Linked DNA regions of Homo sapiens. The protein of the gene in region 1 purifies or fractionates together with the protein of each later gene. This does not show direct contact. Each region holds a gene or a part of one and is shown on either strand. Other genes may lie near its edges. The genes, in order: NRCAM and PTPN23.

The links.
Region 2: the proteins of NRCAM (region 1) and PTPN23 fractionate together in Homo sapiens (co-fractionation; one large-scale study listed by BioGRID). This does not show direct contact.

What each region holds. Positions count from the first base shown.
Region 1 is NC_000007.14:108,446,308-108,450,126, reverse strand, and holds part of NRCAM (neuronal cell adhesion molecule isoform A precursor), read left to right. Parts: intron 1-3,819. UniProt on the Homo sapiens protein: Cell adhesion protein that is required for normal responses to cell-cell contacts in brain and in the peripheral nervous system. Plays a role in neurite outgrowth in response to contactin binding.
Region 2 is NC_000003.12:47,401,350-47,405,168, forward strand, and holds part of PTPN23 (tyrosine-protein phosphatase non-receptor type 23), read left to right. Parts: intron 1-3,302; coding exon 3,303-3,430; intron 3,431-3,655; coding exon 3,656-3,732; intron 3,733-3,819. UniProt on the Homo sapiens protein: Plays a role in sorting of endocytic ubiquitinated cargos into multivesicular bodies (MVBs) via its interaction with the ESCRT-I complex (endosomal sorting complex required for transport I), and possibly also other ESCRT complexes.

The DNA.
Region 1 (3,819 bases):
ATTGCCCTGGACTAAAACATGGTTTAATTCACATGAGAATGAAAATGACAGGTACTGTCAGGCAAAAATGATCCTTTTGAAATTCTTCTCATTAAATAATGGTAGGAAGGGCTGGAAACTATATTTTGAATATATATATGTTGAATATATATATATGTTTAAATTTTATTATGTGCATAGTGTGTTGGTTCAAAACCCACTGTAACCAGAAAAAAAAAAAATCTATTTCTAGGGCAATCTGAGGGAATCCTGTAGGAGGTCTTCCACTGGGTAATATGCAATGAATTTGATTTATCTTTCTCAAGTGGGCTGAGAGCATTCAAAAAATTCAGTATGAGTATTCAGCATGTAGTGATCTTTTCTCCAAATTTCAACTTTAAAGCTAATTTCATGCCACTTTTTGATGTCCTTGGCATTTGAATGGCATGATTTATGGCATGCATTTTTGATGAACATTTACAGACTCATATTCAACACCACTAACAGATTCTCTCTCAAGGGAAAGGGGAAGTACTAATCTCCCATTAATTATGCCTTAAGGTAAGAGTGGCCTGTCCAAAGAGTTTTGTCCTGGAGTTTTTTGGTTCTTTGAGGAAGGATGGCTTGCGAGCGAGTCCGCTGCTGCCTTCCAAAACCTGGTGTGCCTTTTCAGTCCCTTACCTCAATAGAGAGCTGAAAGGACAAAAGTGAACAAAGGAGGCCTGTTTTGCCTGCCCCACTTGCTGGGCTGTTGTCTTGGCCCTTTTCAGTGAAGGGAGGGGGGAGCTGGGTCAAAGTTGAAGAACACTGAAAAGGAATTCAAGCTTCATGTTGAAATTTGAATTATAGCTTCAGTTTGAGTGCCGAGTAGATTAGTTCGAATTGAAATTTGTGAATCTGTGGAAGCTTAAGTGACAGATGGTGTTGGAACAACCTACATAGAGCTGGATGGCACACCCGAAATGTTGAGTGCCCAAGCGAGGCACTTGGTAAACATCTAGTTAACTGACAAAAGTTTTAAAACTGTAGGAAGTTCAGTTTGCTGCTGTACGCTGCATTAAAACATTGGACTGTGTGAATTAAGGGGAGGCCCCTGTGTCTGGCGCTCACTCAGATGCACTTGTTCCCCCTAATTGCATTGCAAATATTCTTCTGACTGTTCTGCGGCTTTCCCCTCTATTATCTAGTTGAATAAATACAGAAATGCCCAACCAGCTTCCCTTGTAAAATTGCATCGCAGTGTTGTGGTGTTGTCCACAGATTGTTTTGATGTGCAACAAGATACATCTGTCCTAAATATTGTCTAACCAGTGTTTTTTCTTCCCAGATAAGTATATTTATGAAGTGTGATTTTGGCTTTCTGCTCCCGGTGGGAGTCCATCACTCTTATATTTACTCTCGAAGTTTTTCATATGGCACATGGTTTTCCATTCATTTTGGTAGGCAGCATCTGATTGAAAACATTTCAGTAGGAAACGTTTTCTAGTGTGTGCATCACTAGAATAATAAAAGCAGCTACTAGGAGGTAGAGGGTACTAGAATGTATTATAATAAGTGAAATAAAAAGCAATTTTGGGTAATTTGAAATTCTTCCTGGTATTCTGTAAAACTGCGATTGGAAATGGAAAAATTGTAGTATTTGAAAACTGAAAAATTGAAAGTTGAAACATCACCAAATTTTGCTTTCGCATCTTTGACTGCTTAAATGACTCGACATAGTCTTTTCTTCTGATGTTAGTAGCATGATGGCTAAAAGCCATTTTTGTAAATGTATATTTAGTACATTCAAATGAATATTTCTACTTTTAGGGAAATAACATTGACATGGCAATATTTGAACAGTTAGTAACATGGAAATTCCAACATAATAAATACTCTAATGTGAACAACATCTAATTTACTTCAGAATGATTATATTAACTTACACGACATGTTGTGTTTTACATGAATCATGATATATACCTTGTGTGTTTCATGAATTTTAAGGTAAATTTCATTTTAATAGATGTGCTGGGGTTTAAAAAACTCCATGGTTATGTTTACGTTTCTAGTAACAGTTACTGTGATGTGAAATTATAATGGAAGGTAAATAGATGTCAAGGGTTCACTGCTGTCCTAAAACCATGAGGGGGTTCATTAAACAGCAGAGAGGGAGTGAGTTCATGATCAGACTCATTACCTCTAAAGGTAATAGCTTAAAATTTGAAAGAAAGAGAAAGGGAAAAGAATAAAAGTTTTTATGGCTATTGCCTGGCTAATGGAGAATAGTCTCCACTTCATAGCACTCAATACGAAATATTCTAGGGATATTTTACTGTAGTACTTTGGGTCATTGCAGTAACTTGACATCATAAAATAGAAATAACTCATAAGTCACCTTACAAAAATGAAATATGATAAGACATTTACATTTAAAAGAAATGTATTGAGAAGAATTTACTAAGAATTGAAAGCTAAAGTTATTTCAGTGTAACATGCTTAAATTCCTAGCCAAATCCACTCTATTTTCCAGCTGTTTTGTTCCTTTATGTACAGGTGGCCCTAGCTTGAGAAAGTTAGCATATGAAAATGTGAACTTGGTCGGGCGCAGTGGCTCACACCTGTAGTTCCAGCACTTTGGGAGGACAGAGTAGGCGGATCATGAGATCAGGAGTTCAAGAGCGCCCTGGCCAGCATGGTAAAACCCCCTCTCTACTAAAAATACAAAAACAAAAATTAGCCAGGCATGGTGGTGCGTGCCTGTAATCCCAGCTACTCGGGAGGCTGAGGCAGGAGAATCACTGGAACCCAGGAGGCAGAGGTTTCAGTGAGCCAAGATTGTGCCACTGCACTCCAGCCTGGGCAATAGAGCGAGACGCTGTCTAAAAAAAAAAAAAAAAAAAAAAAAAGAAAGAAGTGAACTTGGCAAACCCATATGGGGTGACTGTTCACATCAAAGAGGATTCTTCACTTTGCATAAGGATTATATGATGAGTGAGCTGCTGTAATGTATCAAAGTTCAATTCATGAAAAATTTTTCAGAAATATCTAAGTAGAGACTCTGTTGAAAGAGCAAATAGATACCAAGTGAAACCTAAGCAAATAAGGCTGAATAAAAATTAGTAAAGAGGTAGACAGGTGGGTCTGGGTGTGGTGGCTCATGCTAATCCCAGCACTTTGGGAGGCCTGGGCGGGCAGATCACTTGAGGTCGGGAATTTGAGACCAGCCTGGCCAACATGGTGAAACCCCATCTCTACTAAAAAAATGCAAAAATGAGCCAGGTGTGGTGGTGGGCGTCTGTAATCCCAGCTACTCAGGAGGCTGAGGCAGGAGAATCACCTCAACCCAGGAGGCGAAGGTTGCAGTGAGCTGTGATCATGCACTTGCACTACAGCCTGGGCAACACAGCGAGACTCCATCTCAAAAAAAAAAAAAGACATAGGTTGTAAATGCAGAGAGAACATACGATTGTATAAAAATATTTGATATTTGCTCTAAATAACATTGAGGGGCCGAGTCTGCATGATAAAGAAAAGCAGATAACTAGTCATCCAGGCATTGGGGGCCCTTGCTTATCTTAGTCAGCTTTCTCCATGTCTCCTAACTTCGGAAACCATCCTTGCTCTGTTCTGCGAGGAGCCTGAGCTGCTCTTCACATTATGCATGGTGGTATGTATCTGAGAGCCCCCAAATTTGATAAATGAGTGTGTGCAAGAATGAATGACTGAATACATGAATATTGCAAAATGTCAGAATGTCAGGTGGATCTTTGTTGGGGAAAATTGGGGGGTTTTGTTCTCAGCCCTGGTTTGAAGACATAGATAGATCTAGACCATGAGAAACCAAACATTTATAATTTC
Region 2 (3,819 bases), on another chromosome or scaffold:
GTATGCATCACCGCACCTGGCCAATTTTTGTATTTTTTGTAGAGGCGGAGTCTCGCCATGTTCTTCAGGCTGGTCTCAAAATCCTGGGCTCAAGTGATCCTCCCACTTTGGCCTCCCAAAGTGCTGGGATTATAGGCATGAGCCACCATGCCCGGCCAAGATTTTTCAATACTTTTATATGTGCTATTTTAGTGAGTATTGAAAAAAACTGTGTGGCTAGCGCATCACACCTGTGATTTTAGAGCTGTTATTGCTTAGGATGTGGCTCTTAATTTTAAAAATGGATTGTTTAAAGAAAAATGTTAAGTACAAGTGGTATTTGGATATGGCAGAGGTCATGATGGAGGGGTATGATAAGAATGACTAGATTTGAGAAGCATTGGCCTAATGCTGTGAGCTGCAGCTGTGACATGCCTTATCCTTGCACTGGGCATTCTAGAAGCCTCACTACCAGGGAGATTATCATCCCTGTTTAAAGAAGAGACTGAGTTTCAGAGTCTCCCAAGACACTGCTGGGAAGTGGTGTAGAGTACAACTGGTGCCTGACTTTTCTGTTCCACTGTCCCCAGGGTGTATGTACCCCATCTGAGAGCATCCCTGCTGGCAGCTCAGAGCCGAGCTCCCAGAGTGGAGTGTCCTGGAGGATTTCTTCTGGCTAAGTCCTAGTGAGAGGCTCTGGTCCTCTCTGCAGGGGGCTGAGGGCAGACAGGTGTCAAGCCATCCCCCTCACTGTGCACCTGCTCCTTGGAGGGTGTATTGTTTGCTTTTCTGTTTGTTTAAGCAGAGGGTTCATTTTTTTGTTGTTTTCCCCCCAAAATAATAGCTCTGTTGTTTATCATAAATATTGAAAATGTTTAATATAAATACATAAACAATATGAAGAATTAAATACATGTCTGTCAGATGTATACATATTTATCTATTTATTTATTATTATTATTATTATTTGAGACCGAGTCTCACTCTGTCACCCAGGCTGGAGTGCAGTGGTGCAACCTCAGCTCACTGCAACTTCTGCTCCCCGGATTCAAGTGATTCTCCTGCCTCAGCCTCCTGAGTAGCTGGAATTACAGGTGCGCACCATCATGCCTGGCTACTTTTTGTGTTTTTAGTAGATACGGGGTTTCACCACGTTGCCCAGGCTGGTCTCGAATTCCTGGGCTCAAGCGATCCACCCGCCTCAGCCTCCCAAAGTGTTGGGATTATAGGCGTGAGCCACCTCGCCCAGCCATATCTATCTATTTATATAGAATAAGATAAATTACTTAAATCCTGTCATTCAGCGATAATCACGGTTAACATTATGGTGTACAGTCTTCTGAATTTTCTTTTTGTTTATGTACCTATTTGTGGGTTTTTTTGTTTTTTCTTTTGAGACAGAGTTTTTCTCTTGTTGCCCAGCCTGGAGTGCAATGGCATGATCTCAGCTCACTGCAACCTCCGCCTCCCAGATTCAAACGATTCTCTTGCCTAAGCCTCCCGAGTAGCTGGGATTACAGGCACACACCACCACACCCAGCTAATTTTTGTATTTTTAGTAGAGACGGGGTTTCACCATGTTGGCCAGGCTGGCATCGAACTCCTGACCTTAGGTGATCCATCCGCCTTGGCCTCCCAAAGTGCTAGGATTATGGGCGTGAGCCACCTTGCCTGGCCTGTGTACCCATTTGGATATCAGTATTTGTATGATCCCATTTGTTACATTCTTTTTTTTTTTTTTTGAGACGGAGTCTCGCTGTCGCCCAGGCTGGAGTGCAGTGGCGCGATTTCGGCTCACTGCAGGCTCCGCCCCCCGGGGGTTCACGCCATTCTCCTGCTTCAGCCTCCCTAGTAGCTGGGTCTACAGGTGCCTGCCACCACGTCCGGCTAATTTTTTGTATTTTTAGTAGAGACGGGGTTTCACCGTGTTAGCCAGGATGGTCTCGATCTCCTGACCTCGTGATCCTCCCGCCTCGGCCTCCGAAAGTGCTGGGATTACAGGCGTGAGCCACTGCACCTGGCCACATTCTTTTCTTTTTTTTTTCCCCCAATAGCATGCCATAGGCATCTTAACATATGAGTAACTAGAGACTCTTGTCTTTAGTTTTCATGGCTGCAGCATATTCTCTTGTGAGGCGCCTTGACATAATTAATTTAAAACAGTCCCCTTTAGTGGGAATTTTGGTGGGTATCCAGTTTTACCTTTTGCTTTTTTTGAGAGACAGGGTCTTGCTTCATCACCCAGGCTGGAAAACAGTGGCACAACCATAGCTCACTGCAGCCTTAACCTCCCAGGCTCAATCGATCTTTTCCCGTCGGCCTCCCAAGGAGCTGGGACCAAAGGCACCATCACGCCTAGATAATTTTTAAAATTCTTTTTTGTTGAGACAGGGTCTTGCTACATTGCCCAGACTGGTATCTAACTCCTGGCCTCAAGCGATCCTCCCACCTTGGCCTCCCAAAATGCTGGGACCACATGTGTGAGCCCCTGCACCTGACCTGGAGTCCAGTTTTTGACCCTGGTAATAATGCTGTGATGAATATCCTTGCGTTCATATCCAAGCATTTGCTTTCCTGGAAGTCTGTTACTGTAAACTTTTAGATACAGAACTGTAGGTCATGCTGAGTGTGGCAGCTCACACCTTTAATCCCATCACTTTGGGAGGTAGAGATGGGAGGATCACTTGAGCCCAGGAGTTTGAGAACAGCCTGGGCAACATGGCAAAACCCTGTCTCTATTAAATTCAAAAAACTGTGGGCCAAAAGTTAAGTAGAGTAAAAAACTTAAAACATGTTGCAAACTGCTTTTCAGATGTTTGAGATGGGCTGGGCACAGTGGCTCATGCCTGTAATCCCAGCACTTTGAGAGGCTGAGGCGGGTGGATCACAAGGTCAAGTGTTCGAGACCAGCCTGGCCAAAATGGGGAAACCCCGCCTCTACTAAAAATACAAAATTAGCCAGGCATGGTGGCGTGTGCCTGTAGTCTCAGCTAATTGGGAGGCTGAGGCAGGAGAATTGCTTGAACCCAGGAGGTTGCAGTGAATACTGCATTCCAGCCTGGGTGACAGAATGAGACTCTTTTTTTTTTTTTTTTTTAAAAAAGGAAAAACTATGTGGGATAGATTCAGTCGGCCAGCTGCCAGCCCTGGCTTGTGGAATGTTTTGTTGAACGACTATAGGTATAGCCATGGACTTTTTGGGATCCCTTGGTGTGTGCAGTCGGCCAGCTGTGATGCATTTTCCTGGCATTTGTGAGTTAGCTGGCCTGCGTGTCCACTGCCCCATATGACAACAGGCCTGCTTCTCCCATCCTGCCCCCCAGAATGCTGTCCGTGTCCCACGAGACTTTGAGGGCTGTAGTGTCCTCCGCAAGTACCTCGGCCAGCTTCATTACCTGCAGAGTCGGGTCCCCATGGGCTCGGGCCAGGAGGCCGCTGTCCCTGTCACCTGGTGAGAGCCGCAGGCAGGGCTGGAGGATCCCACGGGGAGTCTGGGTGGTGGGGGTGCTCCTCCCCTCCCTTCCCCCTTCTCCTTGCTGCATAGGATGGGGAATGGCCTCATATGGTCCCCCCAGGCCTCCCCACATCCCCACAATGGGGTGTTTAGTCCCCTTACCTAATCTCAGGGCCCTGGCTAGCTCCTGCCCTCGAGATAACTGGGGTGCCATGTCTGCAGGACAGAGATCTTCTCAGGCAAGTCTGTGGCCCATGAGGACATCAAGTACGAGCAGGCCTGTATTCTCTACAACCTTGGTGAGCTGCCTGATCCCTTCCCCCGGCCCTACTCCCCAGTCCTGCCAGCCTAGCTTTCAGCTCTTCAGATGGCCACAAAGGCAGTGG